2 separate regions of the Homo sapiens genome follow, and region 1 is linked to region 2. Evidence: fine-mapped expression QTL. A gene starts in region 2. The other region holds a variant in brackets. All regions are shown on one strand. Distances are from middle to middle.

Region 1 (10,247 bases), 130 kb before region 2:
TCTGAAATGCTAGGACCTACCAACTCTCTTTTCTCCCTCTGTTTCTTTCTTCCATGGCAGGGATATTCAGATATTTCTTTTACTAACAATGCATAAAGCGTGTTTTTCTTATACAAAATTGAGAACCACTGTCCTCATTTGATGAAGATGAATAGTAAATATCTGGCAAGCCTGACAGTGTTCCAGCTGTGGTATACTAATTTAACCCCCAGAAACCATTCCATTTTATGGATTTTACAGAATCAATCTAGATGGAGAAGTTAAGTAGCTTTCTCCAAGTTTCCATGACGGCTCAAGATGGGGCTAGGATTTAATCCTGAGTAATCTTGATCCCCACAAGCCGATCATGGTTATCAGAAAGTAAAGGTAGACGTCATGCTTGGAGGGGCAGTGACCTTGTAGATTAGTATTTTTTTTAAAGAATAACAGTTTTTTGATGTGGATTTTAAAATGCCTCCCCTTCATTCAACATTAAGTCTAAGTGCCAATACTGCATGTGTGAAACAGTCCCAACCCTCCGTGAGTTCAGGCAGATGAGCAAACAAAGGCTTAGAGGATTCAATTGTCTGAGGCTACACTGCTGGACAGTGAATCAACCTGGAATGAAAACGCAGATCTATCTGACCCAAAATTAGATGCTGGGGTAGAGTTTGAATTTTATTCTGGAAACGAGAGTCACTGAACCACACAGGGGTGAAGAGTCTCTATCCGATGTGTTTGCAGTGACGTCACTCTGCGCAGTGGAGAGGGCTTTATGAAAGCAGTGGGGCTGATTAAGATACTCTATGTTCATCTGGAGAACAGTAAGGCTAAAAAGGCAGCAGCAGTGACTGAAGTGGAAGGAAAAGTTTTGTGATCAGCTGGGAGATAGAAGAGGAAGTGCTTGGTGATTAGACGTGGAAGAAGAGGGGAAGGAAAAACAGGCTGCTAAGGCCCTAGTTTGATGGACTGTGTAAATAGCAGTGATTCTCCCCTAGACAGAGAATGTAGGACGAGAAAGAGGTGTGGGGAATGAGACAGTTTTGAACTCTTTAAGTGTCACATTGAAATGGAACCGTCTGGTTGAAAATTGGATATAAACCTCTGTAGGCTAAGTCCATTCTGTGACATCCCAACTCATGTTTTCAAAAGTAACACACACACAGTAACTCAAATCATTAAGGAAATTTCCTAAAATTTACATACTAAGAATATGACAATTTTTTAGTGATTACTTTCTTAGGGAAACTTTGAATTTATGGTTGTAGCGAATGAGGTGTCACGTAAAATAAAACTGTTATATAAGAACAACATTTAAATTCTATTGTCATAACAGCATATACAATACAATTGAAGCCATGGGTATGACCGTGACTGCTTTAAAAGGCTGTGTCTAATAAGGGGAGGGGTTTGGAGAGAAAGGAGGCTTGGGGAATAGGGAAATGTACGTGGCATGAAGTAAAGACTGCAAAAGTGAAAAGTGAGAGTCAAGGCACCTGAGTGTTCATCAGCAATGGCTGATCTGGTGGGTCTCATCGGAATGGAGGTGGTGTCTGCTTCTCATTTCTGTAATGGCCTCACCTAGCACAGGGCCTGGTCAGTAGGTACTTTATACCTAATACCCCAATCAACAGAGCCATATTTTGCCAAGAAGGCAGAAAAGCCACAGATGCCATTGCCTGTGGCAACTCAGTGATTGAGGATGTGTGTGAGTAAGCTGAGCGTCAGCAGTGGGGAAAGAGTGAACTAGAGGTGAGAAAGTAAAGACATCAACTGAGGGCTTCTCCTCCTAAAAGTATGGCTGAAAAGAGAGATGTGGGAACAGTTGAAGGGAGATATATGGTTAAGAAAGCTTTCATTCCCCCCCCATAAAGATGAGTATACTTTTATCCTAAATGGTAAGAACCAATAAAGGAAACATGTTTACAATTGGAAGAGAGGGAGAATTAATAACACATGATGCCCAAGAAGGCACAAGTTCATGCAATCCAGAGTGAGGACAGATTAGCTTCGGACTGATACAAAATCAAGAAGGGAGAAAGCACTGTGTGACTAGAGACATTTCTTCTAAAGGAGAGGTTTACAAAAAGCTCTTTTCATGACCAGCTCTCTGAATAGACTTGTCAGATAACTACTCTAGGAAAGAGGCAATTATGTATAGAGAAGTCTACACTTTAGAAAAGCTTGATAGGCCGGGCGTGGTGGCTCACACCTGTAATCCCAGCACTTTGGGAGGCTGAGACGGGTGGATCATGAGGTCAGGAGATCGAGACCATCCTGGCTAACACAGTGAAACCCCGTCTCTACTAAAAATACAAAAAAATTAGCCGGGAGCGGTGGCGGGCTCCTGTAGTCCCAGCTACTTGAGAGGCTGAGGCAGGAGAATGGCGTGAACCCAGGAGGCGGAGCTTGCAGTGAGCCGAGATCGCGCCACTGCACTCCAGCCTGGGCGACAGAGCCAGACGCTGTCTCAAAAAAAAAAAAAAAAAAAGAAAAGAAAAGCTTGATACACCTTACAATCCCCAAATAATGGCTTTCTTCAACAGTGAGTAAATTGAAAAGCAATTTGAGCAAAAACCCAGAGGCTCAAATATGAATAGGTGCATCACAAAAGTTGAAGAGGGGGCTAATTAACTCCCTCAAAGAGTTAAAAGAAAAAGCAACAACTGCGAGAAGAGTGAAAAATAAGAATAAAAGTATATGTAGTTGCAAAAAGTCTGAATGTTTACAAACCCTGTGACCACAAAAGGGGCCACAAAAGGGGCCACAGGGAGTGTTATCACAGGAGGAAAACGGTTGCTTCAAAAAGCAGAGGAGCAGGGGTAATAAAGATTCCATTTAGTTGAAAAGATTTAAGTAAAGTTTGAGGACAGTTAGGTGACATGTTGAAATGTGGAAAACCACAGTGGAAGGGGAAAAGACCCGATAAAGTTCAGTTTCAGCAACCAACATCCGATGAAATCCTCAGGACCCAGTGACTGCATTCTATGTCAATAATAATATTGGCTGAGGTCCCAGGAATGTCATTAGATACCATTTTGGATGATTCTTATGGACTTGAGGTGAGGTCTATTTTGTTCCAAATCAGTGCCTCCATTTAACAACAGACGTACACAAAAATACGTATCCATGACCAAGAAAACTGAAGAATTTTAAACTTGCTAAGCAGGACTATACTGGGAAGCATTGTCATGAAAATAGATTTTAAAACTTTTTTTTTTTTTTGAGGGGAATTCTGGAGCACATTTAAAAAAACAAAACACTATCCTTCTATGACAGGTGCAAGTTTGGGAGAGCAAAGGAAAGCAAATAGAAGTAATGTGACTTAAATTAATCAATACTTTAATTCTATGAAGGAAGCTGAAACCTTATTTATTGGTGAGTCTGAAGTAAATTCATTTATTCACCTATTCATTCAATAGTCATTCAATACCTGTGCCCTTAACACGTGACACACACTTTGTAAGTGTTCTGGAGGTCGCTTTGACCAAGATAAACAAGATTTCTGTTCTTGTGTAACTTGTCTTCTAGTAAGGGAGTCAAGAGACAGTGTGGCCCATCCCTGCTATCTTTGTGGCCTAGGGTGGCTGTTGATCTTCAGCTTTTGTATATTCGTTCCAGAGAGCAGGATGGAGGACAGGAAGAAGAAGGAAGATTTTCTGGAAGTTCCACATAGGACAGTGCTTACAAATCATTGGCTTAAAGGTTAGTCATATGGCCATACCTAGCTACACGGGAGACTAAAAGAAAAACCATAATCATCACAATGATTGATGACTACGGTGTGTTCTTTGTGCACCACGCATAGTGCATTGCCTCCTTTAGGCCACATAGCAGCCCCGAGGAATGGGCATCAGAGGAGACAGAGGCACAGAAAGGGCAAGTGACTTGCTCAGGGTCACACGGCTAGAAACAGCAGAACCTGGGTCCCGATCTAGATCCATGTGGCTGTCCTATCTTCCTCCCAGCTCAGCTCCTTTCCAACTGCACGAGGATTGCATGCCCTCAACTACGAAATGGGGATAACAACTGTGCCTGCCCCGTGGGGATATTTTGCAGATTAAGGGAGCCAGTCCAGTTTCATGATTTTTGCGTGGAGTCTGGCACATGGTGAGTTTTTGGCAAATGGCACCGCCATCATCATCACCATCATCACCATTATTACGAGTCCTAGCTGGAAGCCAAATGAGTGATCATCCAGTCCAGTCCCCTTGTTGTACAGATGGGAAACTGAGGCCTGAACTGGGGTCAGTGGATCACTGTTGGTAATTAGCAAAGGAGTAACAGAGATCTTCATGAGGCTGAGGCCTGCCATCTCCAGCCTTCCCACACCCCCATGAGTGCAGCCCCAGTGGTGGTCTCAGATGGCACTAACCAGCTTCGTACCACCAGCTGCCCAGGGTAGAGCGGATGAGCCACAGCACTGAGAGCTCTGACAGGTGCAGCT[T/G]GCTGCTTTGCGTGGGGAATTTGCCCTGCTCGATGTGGGAGACCCCTCGGGCAAGCCAGATGCCAACCCCCCCTTCCATGGATTCTTCCCACTTCCCAGCCACCCTGTCACACTGAGGGCCATCATTGTCCCCTTGGACATGGCCTCAGAGCCCCCTGGGAACTAGCCAAGGCCCGGGCTGGAGAGTCTGGGTGTCATGAAGTCCAGCTCAGCCCCAGATGGAAGCTCAGCTTCCACATGCCTCTTTACCCAACTAGAAGTGGGCACTACTCAAGCAGGGTCCCAATCTGCATGCAGAGACCCAAACCCCACTCCTGGGAGCATGTAACCCTATCCCAATAGGAGAATGGGGGTTAACACTCACCCACAGAGTCCCATCACCACTTTTGTTCCCAGAGTGCCCCAGTTCCAAGATGCCCACTTATCAAAAGACCCTCTATTGATACAGAAGATCTGGTTTTTAGGTCCAATCCTGGGTTTTCTTTTGTTCTGTTTGGCCCATCGGTCGGCAGGTAACTGCAGTTTCTTGCTGTTGGCACTGGCTTGGGAAAAGTCTGTCCTCGTCCAGCCACTGGTAGCTACAGGGCGGTTAGGAAAACTGGACTCTGAGCAAGTCCCACCAGGAGGACCCAAGGCTGATGGGTTTTGGAGACCTCACGCTCTAAGGACCTGCCTTAGAGCTGAACCAGTTGAAGACCTGAATCAGTGTATCCCCCCAATTCAGTCAGGGTTCAAGCACAGAAACGGAAACACCAGGGCATATAGATTAAGAGATTTGTCTCAGTTGTTGAACTTATGTCATTGTGGGAACTACTTAAGAAGTTTCAGGTGGCCGGGCGCGGTGGCTCAAGCCTGTAATCCCAGCACTTTGGGAGGCCGAGGTGGGCGGATCACGAGGTCAGGAGATCGAGACCATCCTGGCTAACACGGTGAAACACCATCTCTACTAAAAATACAAAAAAAATTAGCCGGGCGCGGTGGCAGGCGCCTGTAGTCCCAGCCATTCGGGAGGACTGAGGCAGGAGAATGGCGTGAACCCGGGAGGCGGAGCTTGCAGTGAGCCGAGATCAAGCCACTGCACTCCAGCCTGGGCGACACAGCGAGACTCCGTCTCAAAAAAAAAAAAAAAAAAAAAAAAAAAGAAGTTTCAGGCTGGGTGTGGTGGCTCACACCTGTAATCCCAGCACTTTGGGAGGCCAAGGTGGGTGGATCACTTGAGCACATGAGGCAAAACCCTGTCTCCACAAAAAATACAAAAATTAGCCAGGTGTGGTGCACGTGCCTGTAGTCCCAGCACTTTGGGAGGCCAAGGCAGGAGGATCACTTGAGGCCAGGAGTTCGAGACCAGCCTGAACTACATGGTAAGACCTCCCTCCAACCTCTATTTTTTTTTAATTAATACAAATTAAATTAATACAAAAGCTCCCATTTAAGGGGGACTTATAGATGCCAGGCACTGTACATTAGTTCTACAATTTAATCTCTACAGCAACCTTGCAAGAAGGCACAACCAACCTATGTTAGTCTGTCTTGTGCTGCTTTAACAGAATACCTCGGTAATTTATAATAAACAGAAATGTATTTGGCTCATGGTTCTTGAAGTCCAGAGTCCAAGGGCATGGTGCCAATATCTGCTCGGCATCTGGTGGGGGCCTCCTTGCATATTCCCATGGCAGAAAGAGAGAGAGTGAGAGAGAGTGCAAGAGATCTAACACACAGCCTCAAGCCCTTCTGTGATTGGCATTAATCCACTCATGAGAGTACAGACTTCATGACCCAAACACCTCCCATTAGGCCCCACCTCCTAACACTGTTGCAGTGGGGACTGCCAACATGTGCTTCCTGGGGGATGCATTCAAACCATAGCAAGTCCCATTTTTCAGACTGGAAACTGAAGTCCCATAGCTGAAGATCTGAGCCCAGGTGGGGTTGAGAGCCTGGGCCTCTTCTCTTCTCTTTTCTCTTATCTTCTCTTCTCTTCCTTCTCTTCTCTTCTTTCTCTTCTCTTCTCTTCTCTTTTCTTTCTCTTCTCTTCTCTTTTCTCTTATTTCTCTTCTCTTCTCTTTTCGACAGAGTCTCGCTCTGTTGCCCAGGCTGGAGTGGACGGGCATGATCTCAGCTCACTGCAACCTCTGCCACCCAGGTTCAAGTAATCCTCCTGCCTCAGCCCCCCTAGTAGTTGGGATTACAGGCACTCACCACCATCCCCAGCTAATTTTTGTGTTTTTAGTAGAGACAGGGTTTCACCATATTGGCCAGGCTGGTCTGGAACTCCTGACCTCAGGTGATCCACCTGCCTAAGCCTCCCAAAGTGCTGGGATTACAGGTGTGAGCCACTGTGCCCATCTGAGAGCCTGGGCTTTTTCGATGCATCGGCGGAGGGTAGTTCAGCACAGGGGTACCTGAGAGAGCAGAGCTCTTCAAGAGGGAGCCTGTGGTGTACAGCTAGGAGGGGCTGAGCAGGAATTTGCTACTGGGAAGACTAGAAATGGTGCACTGAGGACATCTGCAGCAAGGAGAGCTGGAGGCAAAGGCTGGGATCCCTGGCAAGCTCTAGGCCTCTCTGCCCTGGGGGTTGTGCCAGGCCTGGGCTGGGCGGGAGGGATGGGAAGCTGCCTGCCCTCAGCAAGCAGGTGGAGGCTGGTGTTCCTGAGGCTATGGACAAAGCCACCTCCTGCCTCCTTTTAGAAAGGCTCTGTGGCAACTTTTAGAGATTTGCAGGATGAAAACAACAAAAACCAGCAAGCAAACAGAGACTGGAGTAGAGGAATAGTAATCACAGAGGAACAAGAGTGCGGAAAGGCTGGGAATGTATATAGAAAGGCACAGCGGCCCCTGTGAAAGGATGGCAATTGAAGGGAACGGTGGCGGTTAGTGGCACCTGTGCGCACTCTAGTGGGCGCAGAGGGGAAGAATACTTAATTTGTTCATGTACTTATGCACCCATTCATTGTGGAGGGAGGATGGGAAGGACTTTGCTCTGAGATTCTGAGTATCAGAAAGGGGAAGGGACTTGCTGAGGGTCACAGAATGCCAGTGGCAGGGGTCACAGTGGGTCATTTCACGAGACCGCACGAACTCTCAACCTTCCTGGCATTGGATGAAACCTCATGAAGCAGGTAAGGGTGAGTGGAGAAGAAAGCATGAGGCCTGCCGTCATCAGCCCTGGCCTTGACTCTCCGCTAGGCCCATTGCTGCTTTGGGAAGCTGGGAAAGTCCCTCAACATTTCAGGACTTCAGTGGCCTCATCTGTAAAATGGGGTTATCTTAGCATCTACCTATTGAGAACGGTGAGAGTTAAATGAATTGATGGATGTCAAGGGCATACAACGATGCTTGGCCCATGGTGGGTGCACAGTTCGCAGAGAAGAGAAACTGAGGCCCAAAGAACTGGCCAGGCCCGGTGCAGTGGCTCACGCCTGTAATCCCAGCACTTTGGGAGGCCAAGGCGGGCAGATCACCTGAGGTCAGGGGTTCGAGACCAGCCTAGCCAACATGGTGAAACCCTTTCTCTACTAAAATACAAAAATTAGCCAGGCATGGTGGTGGGTGCCTGTAATCCCAGCTACTCGGGAGGCTGAGGCAGGAGAATGGCTTGACCCCAGGAGGTGGAGGTTGCAGTGAGCCAAGACCGCACCACCGCACTCCAGCCTGGACGACACAGCGAGACTCCGTCTCAAAACAAAACAAAACAAAACAAAAACAACAACAAACAAAATTAGCCAGGAGTGGTGGCACAGGCCTGTAATCCCAGCTACTCGGGAGGCTGAGGCAAGAGAATCACTTGAACCCAGGAGGCGGAGCTTGCAGCAACAAAAGCGAAACTCTGTCTCAAAAACAAAGAACTGGACAGCCCTGTCTCCACCAGCCAGCTCAAATCGGGCAGGGTATAAAAACACTGGGGCTTGGAGAAAAGTTTTAAAATGTCCTGGCTGGGCACAGGGGCACATACCTGTAATCCCAGAACTTTGGAGGCCAAAGCAGGAGGATCACTTGAGGCCAGGAGTTTGAGACCAGCCTGGGCAACATAGTGAGACCTCATCTCTAAAACAAATAAAAATAGGCCGGGCGTGGTGGCTCATGCCTGTAATCCCAGCACTTTGGGAGGCCAAGGCGGGCAGATCATTTAAGGTCAGGAGTTCCGAGACTAGCCTGGCCAACATGGTGAAACCCCATCTCTACTAAAAATACAAAAATTAGTTGGGTGTGGTAGGCAGATTGGGCAAAAAGAGTGAGACTCTGTCTCAAAATAAATAAATAAATAAAAATAAAAACTAGCCAGGAGGTAGTATTATTGTCAGGAAGTATGTATTTCTTGGGAGGAAGCCAGCGCCCTCTCTCTCTCTCTCTCTCTATCCAGGTGGGCTTGGCTACCATTGGCTCTGCTCCCCACATCCTAGGGCAAGGAGTTTCTCCTGGGCCTGGGGTCTCAGAGGGCCGGGGCACCCACATGTGCCCCAGGTGTGGCAGTTCCAGTTGTAGCTGTCAGCATTTGATGGTGTGGATGACTCAGGCAGTGTAGCTAGGTGGGTTTAGTGGTGGGGGCAGAGAGGGAAGTTCCCTTAGATGCTCCCTTCCCCACTTCTGTCACCCACCTCTGCAAGCTGTAATTATCCAGCCTTTTACTTTGAACTGTACTTCCTCTTACTAGTATATTTTTAGCTCTCCTGCCAGATCATGCTGTGGGAGAGCAGGTCCAGGCCCTCATGGAAGTAGGGAAGAAATCAGTTCTACCCACTGGTCTTTTCCTTATCTCTACTTGGGGACAGTCATGGAACTGTCATGGAATTATTGGGAAAGTTTAATGAGTTAATATGCAGAGGCGCTTCACACAGTGCCTGGTTAATGGTTAACTATTAGTAGTAGTCTCACCCTTCACAGTTCAGGTTGGGTGTCACTTCCTCCAGGAAGACTTCCCTGACTTTCCCAGGCTGAATTTGGTGCCTGCATCCCCTGTGCCTCCCTGGTACTTCCTACCACTCTGAGTTATAATTGTCCCTTTGTTTATCTTTCTCCCATACTCAACAGTGAGCCCCCAAGGGGGGATTGTGCCATACCCTGTTCACTGTTGCATCCCCAGTGTTCCTGGCTCAGATGGCAGTGATGATTATATTTTAGGAGAATGAATGAAACTCATGACAGCTGGGGCTCTGGGACCAGGCCCTCAGCCTTGTCACTCACATGCTATTTAAGTTCTCAGGGTTGAAGTTCCCCCCAAGATGAAATGGAGCTAAAACAACCCCTTCCTCATGGGGCCGATGTCAGGAGCAAATGAGATTTTCTGCACACTACCTGCCACGCTACATGTTCCATAAACATTCACTGTTGTTCTGCAGTTCCTGATTAAATACACTCTACTTGGCCGTGTGTGTTGGCTCATGCCTGTAATCCCAGCACTTTGGAGGTGGATCCCTTGAGGTCAGGAGTTTGAGACCAGCCTGGCCAACATGGCAAAACCCCATCTCTACTACAAATACAAAAATTAACCAGGCATGGTGGTGTGCAAATGCAGTCCCAGCTACTTGGGAGGCTGAGGCAGGAGGATTGCTTGACCCTGGGAGGCAGAAGTTGCAGTGAACCAAATTTGCACAGCTGCACTCCAGCCTGAGTGACGGAGACTCTGTCTTAAAAAAAAAAAAAAAAAAAAAAAAAAAAAAAAAGCCAGGTGTGGTAGCTCATGCCTATAATCCCAGCACTGTGGGAGGCCAAGGCGGGCGGATCACCTGAAGTCAGGAGTTCAAGACTAGCCTGGTCAACAGGTTGGAACCCCATCTCCACTACAAATACAAAAATTAGCTGGGTTTGGTGGTGGGCGCCTGTA
Region 2 (10,108 bases):
ACTATATATAATTTGGAGAACTAAAGACAGTTTGAAAATAAGAGCTCTGATATCTTTAAGACTTTATTAGAGTCTTTTATAACAGCAATAATAAAAGGGCAGGGGGAGACAGCCTGAAACATTACACAGCACTGAACACAAAAAAATTATCATAGGTTTTTCATGTATCCCACCCAACCTCAGTATCGGAATACAATTTCTTCTAATTCTTAGAATAGTTTATTTTTTAGTATCTTGGAATAATGTTATATATATTCAAGACATACCATGGATTAAAATAATTCATAACACTTAAAACAGAAAATAAAATGTGTCTGGACTAGAAACCAACCAATAGACAAACATGATACATGCAGGGTGGCAGTCTGCTCCTCTAAATAAATCTCATCATGCAATCTATCCTTCAGGGAACAGGGGAAAATCAGCTGGGGAGAAATCACCTGAAATACCTTTGGGAAGGTAAATAACTATTATTAAGGCTTGAAACAAAGTAATATTAAATAAAAAAACCTTTCCCAAAATCATATAAAGAATAGGACATGGATCTGCAAATGGCACCTGAAGCAGTTTTTCATTAGCACCTTGCTGTGTGTGATGTTAGAAAGTTTGGGGGTTCAACAAATGAAAACACCTAAAGGATTAACATTACAGGGTTAGACAAGATGGAAAGCATTTCCCATGCAAGAATGAGCAGGATAGTCAAACCTGTACTGGTCCCTTCTACTGTGGAAAGCACAAAACAAAAAGTAGAGGGTACACTATCAGATGAAGCAAACATGTGAAAACCAGTTTGATTTTTAAGCAGCTCAATTTAAGAAGACTCATTCTTACTCAGTATTAGCATTAGCAAAATCTTTTACATAGTCTCCATTTCATCGTGAGATTATTCAAACAGTTAAAAGTTCTTTTCTCTCTTGGAATTTATCCCACCCACATTCTATTGGAGATCTCTCAAGACTATAAGAGTAGGGAAGAAAGAGAAAAAATACCTCTTCCTAAGAATAAAGGATTCCCCAGATGCCAAGGTATGGACCAGAATATACATCCGAAAGCATGACTAATAAGCTTCTTAGCCAATGCCCTAGCCAGAACGACCCAAAAATCTCTCCAAGGCAGGCCTTACCAGTGGGAGGCTGTCCATAAGAAGTTGCATAGGCGGTCTGCCCATAGGTTGCAGTGGTCTGAGCCTGGGTATAGCTGACATCAGTGGGCTGTCCATAGGTTCCATAGCTTTGTTGCCCATATGCCTGCTCCAAAAAAAAACGAATGCAAGAACTTCATACATGAACTTTTGTATTTTAGCAATAAAATGGACTAAATTGGAGAACCAAAATCAAAAACATTCCTTTCTAGAAGATTAAAAAAACAAAACAAAAACAACAAAACAAGACAAATAATCACAGTATCATGAATGTTATCCCTTATCTGGTTCACTCATATTATGGTAAAGTTAGCTACGGAAAAAGCTCATTAGGTAAGTAGGCAATGTCATTCACAGCTTCTCAAAAGGGGGAAAAAAAAGATAATCAGGCAAAACCTCAGTTAACTATACATGAGATTAACAAGACACTCTCAAGGGAAGAGCAATAAGGGCACAGGTGTATTAACTGCTAGCACTTAGCGTAGCACAGTTTTAGTGATTGGAAACAAAAGGTACGAAGACAAATGAACAGAGAAAGCAATGAAGAGGGCTAAAATCTGTCAGAAAAAATTGAAAACCAGATTTTCAGCCTGACAAAAAGACTTTAAAACTACTATACCACTTCAAAGAAAATGAACCAGAACGCTGTATGTCCTCTTATGGTGGGCACATCAAGAGTACTGTCTTTTGAACTTAGACATCCATAATACTTAAAATCAGGCAAGGAAGAGTTGTTCTTTCAGATATTAGCATGATTATTCTCTAGGTTTGTTTAAATGACCAGTTATGTAAGATCTGCCAGAGACATCACATTCTGCTTGTCCTAGAACATGTTTCCATGGCAGTTATTAGTATCCATTTTATGGCATGGATCATTTCAGAATTCAACATTATCTTGAAAACACTAGAAGGCTAATTTCTAGAATCTGTTGGCCTAGGCTTTTCAACAGACTCTTCACTGGAAAGAGCTCAGCAGCTCCTTGGCTAGGTCGCCAGTTTTTAGAGCTAACCCCGCCACTTACTGTGCAACCACTGGCAAGTTACTTAATATCTATGCACTGCAATGTTCTCCTCTGCAGAATGGTCATATCATCCTCTTCCTTTGCAGAATTGCTATGATGAATAAATTCACTAAATTTAAACATAATGAAGAAGGACCAAGCATGGAACAGGGCACCTAACTTGAGAAATCATATTAAAAAGTTATAAAGAGTCAATTATCAGCTTCTGAATGGTTTCATTTATGATGGCACAATGGAGTCCTTCGCACTCCCACTGTGAAAGTTTAAAATGCCTGGGTATTTTACTATTCCAAACACATTACTCATTTGTTTTACTGGATAACTGAAAGATAACTGGATAATATACTGATTTTACTTGGAGGTGCAGCTACATGTAATTATTTTAAAGATTACCTGGGTGGTCTGTGCATATCCTTGAGTGGGCTGGGCGGTGTAAGCACTGTAGCTGCAAAAGAATTAAATGCAATAACTTGAATAGAGAACATTCAAATACCACCTCTACAATTATAGAAGGCTCCATATTCAAAAAATATTAATCACACACAAAATACGGTTATAAAAGACTGACTTACCCCTGCTGCGCTGCAGCTTGGCTATAGGTACTGTAATCTAGAGGAAAACAAGGAGGAAAAATAGTGTAAAGTTAGCAGAAACAAGGAGAAGAGAAAAAAGGGGGAAAGAATTCACGTGGCAGGAAGAATTCTTTAAACTGTAGGGAGACCTGCCAACACAGGTCCAAATGAGTCCCCCTTACCTCTCAACATCTAACAGAAAAAAAAGTCTAAACCAGTTAAACTCAACATTTGACTGTGGGACTAGCTAATGAGGTCAAGATCAGCTGATTTGGCAGGTATACTTTTTATGTTCCCATGACCACAAAACCCATCCCAATCCCAACTGTCATTTAAAATACAGGATGATCATCAATATCACAGACTGACAACAAGATCTACTAACAGGATCAGAAGTTTCTACCCTCATATAAAACGGAGGCATGCAACAATAATACAAAGTTTAACACTAGATTGGTTACGTTAGAACCTACCTCTCCTCAAAAATTAGTTTTCACTCCCCTCACTTTAGCAAGTTAGACAAACCATCATTCCCTAGCTCAACGACAGTGAAACGGAATGGCAGACAAGAAGGCAGTCACCACACTCCAGTGTTTTAAAGGGTTTGCTGTGTCAGAACTATATTTGTGCAGCAACTTAAAAGCTAGATATATTATAAACCCTGGTGAAGCAGAGCTAAGGCAGAACCCTGAAGACTGGCAAAGAAGAAAAAGCATTTAGTCTTTCTGGGAAAAATTTGGTAACACCATTGTCTTTCATACAACTCAAAATGATTTCAACTTAAAAAAAAGACATGAATTTTCATCCCTTATCTAAGTAAACCTCCCTATAATTTTCCTTTTCCTATGAAATTTATAACATGCATCCAAAGGGACCAAAAACTGGTCCACTGAGGTGTCTACAAGTAGTAAAAACAAACGGAAAATAGTTTTCAGAGCGCTACTGCATTAAAGTTAGATAAATTTAGTTTTTTTTTAAAGGCAGTTAAAGTAATTATTTTTGAAAATTCTGCCCAATTCTTTCTTCTCCACAAGAACACATATCTTGTTCTGTCTGAAGACAGTACTGCCATTAGGACGGAAAAAAGGGGTCCTTTATTTTCCAATCAGAAAGTAGTCCCTCATCCAAAACCAACAATTGACAGCTCTTCATGGCATCCACTTCATGGAATCCAAAGCCAGCCTCACAATCCCTCGGCGGCCTGAGAGAGCTTTGCTGAATCCATCTCTTCACGTTGGCTTATCTGCCTACCTCTCTGTACTTTACTGGACTACTTTCTTTCCTTTGTACACACTCTTAACTCAAAACCCTGAATCACCAAGAGGAACAAATCAACTGCCCAAAGGCTAACCTATAATGAAAAAAATAATCTGTTCATGACAATCTTAAAGGCATTTTCAATAGCACTACAAGTCATACTCTCTCTGACATTAAAACTAAATGCAGATCATTTTTTCCATGTGGCATCTACAAAATAAACACAGCAATGAATCATTTAACATCAAATATTTTAACCCACGTTTTGTTGAGGTCTTTGCTTGAGAAGTGATTGTAAATCACTGTCATGTAAGTTCAACGTTTGCAAGACGACTTTTACGCAAGAGCAGTTATGTAAAACATCAAACTGGCAAAGCTGATATGGAACAACCAATGACCTCTTATCAGTGAGAAACCACAGGATTCGGCCCTATACTAACTGGTGGGCTATAGAAGGTAGCAAATTTGTTTCATGAACTTACATTTATCTTCCTAGAGCACACAAACATCACAGGCCCTCAAGCAAGCTATTAGGTTGATGCAAACGTAATTACTTTTGCACCAACCTAATACAATTACAAACTGGTCAGATTATTCAGCAACCGTGTTCGTTTTTAACCCCCAAAAGTGAGCCACTGACTTCACTAAAAATCACTTCACTGTGATTGAGCGCTGGGGGTTCTAGATTGCTGCGAGTCTGCATTCCAATTCTTTGTTGCACTGGATATATATGCTTTACGTACTTTTCTACATGAGATAACATACGAGGAGAGAAAACTTCTATTATTAACCCAAGGCAACGGTTTAACACTTTAGAGCAGTCACTATGGAAGCTGCTTCACACTACCTGAGTTGAGCTTCACAGTACCTGAGCTGAAGTCAGCATAGGACAAATTTGTGGAATGCTTATGCTGGAAGGTCAGAAGGGCTCAAAAGCTTAAGAGGTCTAGCCTAACTTCTGTATTTTACAGGAAAGGAAACTAAGGACCAGATTACTTATGTGACTCTCTGAAGGCCCCCCCAGCCAGGCCTAATGTGTTTACTTTGTGTCAACAGAAACCACAACTGTAATTCTAATACAGTACAGCACATGGTAGTTACTGGTGAACAAGGTTTGAACAAAGTTGACTGAAAAAAGGCACGTCCAGCCACGCAAAAATGTCAACGCACACGTTTTGCCTTTTCAGGCTTTTGCAGAGCAGAAGAGGGTGGATAGGGCACCTAGGAAACCACTTCCCACCGGGAGGTTAGCTGTGGTATTTCAGTCCTCTCTTCTACCGGCACTCTTTGGTATCCACTCTTTGGTATCCCGGCACGAACAGCCAACACTTACCTGTTTATTGACCACAGATGGGGAGAATTCTTAAACTGTCCTTAAGTTGCTGGATTCTGGACTCCAAAAACTCTGGAGTGCCCAGAACTTTTCCTGTCTTCCTTCTCATCTTCTCCCACTGTCTCTAAGGCCTGGAACCAGGTGGCCTGAGAATACCCCCGGGGCAAAAATGCTCCACCCTGCCAATTTTCGCGGGTTAGTGTACCCACAGATTGCGAACTGCAGGTGATGGCTAGGCGACACTCTTAAACGCTCCTTCCATCAAGGACCACTCTACTCCCATTTTGGAGTTCCCAACCGGGGCTTGCTTGCAAGTGCCTTTAAGATTGCTTCTACTGGCCTTTTTTCCCCTCTCCTCTGTCGACCTACGAAATCAACAGGCCTGCCGGCCTAACGCAGGCGAATAAACGTGCGAGGCCACTGCTGAAACATAATTCAAATGAAGGCTCGGCCTTTTGTTCCTCCTAGGTCAGAGAGACCAGAAATATCTTTCTGGTAGCGTTTCTCGTCTCTCGACCCAGGCTGGCCTTATTATACAACGGATGTCCCTCGGCGTTTGCAGAAAAAGGGCCCTGGGAAGCCACTTAATTGGTTTTGGGGGAGGGGAGGACGTGGATTAATAACGATAAAAATGGAGAAGCCCAAGAAAGCGGCAAACTGGGGGCCCTGGAGGAGGGAAGCACATTCTGTCTAAAGCCCAGGCGAGCAGAAGTTCGGCTTGGGGCTGGAAGCCACAGAGGGGGCAGCTCGGCAGCGCCAGACGCCCCAGCCGACTGGGTCTTAAGGATGACGGGGCTCCCGCTCATAGGCCGGCACCCCTCGGCCCACAAATCCACGGTATCTTTATTTGCTTTTTCCCCTGGTTTCTCAGGAAACCCTGAAAACGGGGAGGGAGGCCTCACAGGGACAGCAGCCTGCGGGCCCCCCGGCGGTTTCATAGTGACCGGCTTGAGGCCTGGCCAAATCCTCCCCTTCACGCAGGGCCTCGAAGGCCGCAGGCCCCGCCCACGTGGCGGGAGGCCCGGAGCTCAGGGCGCGAGGACCGCCACACAATGGAGGCCAAGGCGGGCCCCGCGCGCCCCCGCCGCAGCAAGCCCCCCGCGCGCCACGGGCGCCGGAAGATTCCAGAACCGGCCCGCCCGGTTGGGGGAGGGGAGAGGAATGCGGATCCCCGAGCTCGTCGGGCCGCGGCGGGTGCCTCAACCCCCTCTCGGCAACTCCACTCAGTCTTCCCAGCCAAGCCCAGAGACGAACGACCCCCAGTTTGGGCGTTCCGGCTACCGCCGGCGCGACCGCAGTTCCACCATACTCACCCGTGGACGCCATTTTCTCTCCTTCCTCCTCGTTCTCTCAACGTCCGTCTCCCTCTCGCTTTCCCTCTAGGCGCCGCACTGCGCAGGCGCAAATCTCGCAACCCCGGGCGCGACCATCGGGCCAGGCCACGGGGGTGGGGTCAGGAGGGATGAACCACCGCTTACTCGTTCTTCGCGTCCGCAACTCTTGTCCCAGTCCTCTCTAAAGAGCGCCCGACGTGACACTCGGGCCAAAATAGCATCTAAGGGGCCAGAGCGGGGGTGAGCGGGTCTCAGCGTGAAACCGGAGAGGCTCTCAGCACGAGACTAGGCTGTTTGGAATGGTTCCGTCCGCTGGCTCTAGGGACGGTCGCTGAAGAGTCGGCCCTGCAGGGAGACGGAGATCGGCGGGAGGGCTGGGGGAAGGGACCCGGACTAGAACAACTGCTGACTAATCCGCGGGCCGCGGGGAATGGGTGGCGCGCCAGCCGGTCGGCAGGGGTCACGCGGCCGGGTGTGCGCGGAATGGATTCAGGGTTCTCGGGTCGCGCCCGGGAGCTAGAGTCCTGACTCCCAGCCGGGGTCCCCGACCGGCCTTTCGGGGTTGCCGGGCGCGCTCTGCAGTGAGTACCCGGGACGCGTGGCCCGGGCCAGCGGGGAAGGGTCCCCAAGGCCGGTCGGCTGGGTGGGAGGCCTCGAACGCCGTGCCTGGCCCCGAGACCCTATCCCCGGTAACGGTCGAGGTGGAGCAGGCCCTTTAATCATCCCTCATCCGATATCCTTGTTTCTACAGAAGGGGAAACTGAGGCCCAAGGAAATTGAGTATCTCTGCAAAGTCACCAGCTGAGTTCGAACCAGACAGATCCTGGGACCCCCTACTCTATCCGCCACCGGAAGAATCTCCGTCCTTGTCTTTCCATTCTGCCCTCCCGGCTTCCCAGTAAGGTAGGCAGGGCCTGGTGGTGCACTGCCCCGTTTCATAGATTGAAGAAAGTGAGGTCCAGGGGGCTCAAGTCCCAGTTCCGAGTGTCCACGGGTAAGCCCTTCACCCTTGCTAAGGTGCCCAGAGCTGGGGAATGGTTGTGAGGTGTCGATGCAGGAGGAGGTTTACGGTGGGTGCCTTGGCCCCAAACCCTGCCTCCAGGCAAGGCTGACCCTGCCCACCTTCCTGGACCTCTAGCCCCAGCCCCCTAGGTGGATGCCCGGGTCCGCGAAGGGCAGGGTTCACCTTCAAATCCCTCGGCAGGACCAGGAGCCAAGCTAGTGTCCTTTTTTCAGTGAACATATATAAAGCACTGGCTGTGTGCTGTGAATACCCTGGGGAATGTGGGGTTGGATCAGAGGAGCCATGAGCTCAGACCACCTGCCTAGGGAGACAGACTGGCCAAGCTGTGCTCCTAAGGATAAGATCCATGATGTTAGGGGGCCAGAGGAGGGGAAGGGATATTTGAGCTGGGCTTCCAAGGGTGAAATAGGAGTTTGCCTGCTGGCAAAATGGAGGGAAGGACAATGCAGGCAGAGGAGCTTTCCACATTTTTCCTGCAGGAAACTGGTAGATGTGGAGAAGGCGCTTGGCAGGGGAGCAAATTAGGCAGCCTTCTTGTCTCTCTGGGATCCTGCTTCCTGCCCTGAATCAGCTCAGTGGGAGTCCTGGGACCGAGAGGCCTGACCAGGGGTGAAGACCTACAGGCCCTGGAGGACAGGCTGGATGCAAGAGAACAGCACGGGGGAGAAGGCCTTGCTTTGGTGGGCAGGGAAAGGCCATGTTTGAGGGCCAAAGCTGGGACCAGCTAGGCTGGAGCAGCCACCTCCATATTGAGGCCTTCTCGATGGGCCAGTTGGTGGCTACAGACGCCTGCCATGATTAGTGCGGATTGCTATGGTTTATGGAGGAAGAGTTGTGGGCCAGGGCCTGCCTTAGCCTATTCCTTTTTATTTCATCATACTCTGAGGAAAAGAATTTATGAATTTCCATTTTACAGATGAGAAAGGAGAGGCTCATCTGTAAAATGAGGCTCATCTGTAAAAAGATGAGGTTGGAAACTTGCCTCAGGACACAGAGCAGAAAGAGGTGGAGCGCATACTGTACCCTTCCTGTGGAAAGGGGAGCCAGGGCCAGAGGGGCTGTGCCAGTAAGGAAGCAGGAGGAGGCTTACAGTGGATGGGTTCACCCTCAAAGGGGATGTCTCAGTCGCAGGTCTCTGAGTATGGCTCAAGATGTGGGACTTCTGCCCATCTGCCCTACCCCTTACCCTGTCGGCTTGCCCATTGTCTGGCCCCACCCCAGGGTCAAGGGCAACTGAAACCATCTGGAGCATTAAGGCTGGGAACAGGGGAGGGGAGGAAGGAGGGAGGTAGTAGTCTGAGGGAAGGGGGAGGACAGAAGAGGGCTAGAGATGGCCCTGAATTCGCCCTGGGGGGTGAGGGCCTGAACCCCTCTTTTTGGGAGTTCAGGGCCTATCAGGACTCAGAAGTCTCTATGCCTGTCCCCTGCCAGTCCTTAAACAGAGGTGAGTGGAATGGTAAGATGGCTTATGAGCGCATGGGTTAGGGTCTGAGCTCCACTAAGGCCAAGCTGCTGGGCCTGCGTCTCCAGCCTGTTTCCACCTCTGTAAAATAGGGCTGTTGATAAGGTGCTTGAGAGGGTATTGGTGAGATAAAAGCTCCAGTAATAACTTGTTATTGTTTTCTTTTATCCCCAGCACACAGCCCCAGGACCACCCTTGACCGTCCTCAACCAAGCGATGCATGCCAGGGGCCCCCATGGCCAACTGTCCCCAGCACTGCCTCTGGCCTCCTCAGTCCTGATGCTGCTGATGAGCACCCTGTGGCTGGTGGGGGCCGGCCCCGGCCTGGTCCTGGCCCCGGAGCTGTTGCTGGACCCCTGGCAGGGTGAGGGCCAGCCACGTGGACCTTGGAGGAAGCAGGAGACTTGCTGTAGGGCCTGGGCCCACTTGGCAGGAGCAGCACAAGGCCTCCAGGGGTCAAACAGGGATGGGGCCCAGTGTCCCGGGAAAGCATGGCCTTAGACAGGAGCATGCCCAGCACATCCACAGCCAAGAAGGGAGGCAGAGGACTCCCTAGGGTGGGCTGGAACCTATGGGTAGGAGTGCTTTTCTCATGGTTTCCCTTTCTAGCAGCTTTTCCTTGAAATAAGAACTAAGGCCAGGTGGCTGACGCCTGTAATCCCAGCACTTTGGGAAGCTGAGGCAGGTGGATCACTTGAGGTCAGGAGTTCGAGACCAGCCTGGCCAACATGGTTAAACCCTGTCTCTACTAAAAATACAAAAATTGGCCGGGCGCAGTGGCTCACTCCTGTAATCCCAGCACTTTGGGAGGCCGAGGCGGGCGGATCACGAGGTCAGGAGATTGAGACCATCCTGGCTAACACGGTGAAACCCCGTCTCTACTAAAAATACAAAAAGATTAGCTGGGCGTAGTGGCGGGTGCCTGTAGTCCCAGCTACTCGAGAGGCTGAGGCAGGAGAATGG

Direction of the effects. Alleles are on the strand shown, and positions count from the first base shown. SD is a standard deviation of normalised expression in the study named.
In carriers of allele G in region 1, the expression in prefrontal cortex of the gene that starts at base 7,007 in region 2 tends to be lower than with T alone (small effect, 0.29 SD a copy in GTEx).

Evidence for each region. PIP is the estimated chance that this variant, and not a neighbour inherited with it, causes the effect.
Region 1: its variant is fine-mapped to the expression of RHBDD3 in prefrontal cortex (GTEx, PIP 0.98).

Annotation. Positions count from the first base shown.
Region 1 is chr22:29,392,218-29,402,464 of GRCh38, reverse strand. It overlaps a transcript of RFPL1 not described here. Among named protein-coding and RNA genes, the nearest start is that of AP1B1, 8.8 kb to the right of the region's middle. The variant T/G (reference allele first, on the strand shown) is at 4,427.
Region 2 is chr22:29,264,880-29,274,987 of GRCh38, reverse strand. It overlaps RHBDD3 (rhomboid domain containing 3), which reads left to right and starts at 7,007. Exons shown (of 7, transcript NM_012265.3): 1 at 7,007-7,240; 2 at 7,411-7,562; 3 at 9,320-9,509. The coding sequence starts at 9,362. It overlaps EWSR1 (EWS RNA binding protein 1), which reads right to left and starts at 6,720. Exons shown (of 17, transcript NM_005243.4): 1 at 6,639-6,720; 2 at 2,736-2,772; 3 at 2,557-2,608; 4 at 1,124-1,247. The coding sequence starts at 6,651. RefSeq lists enhancers at 5,123-5,172, 6,635-6,694, 6,805-6,864, 6,257-7,128 and a silencer at 6,375-6,464.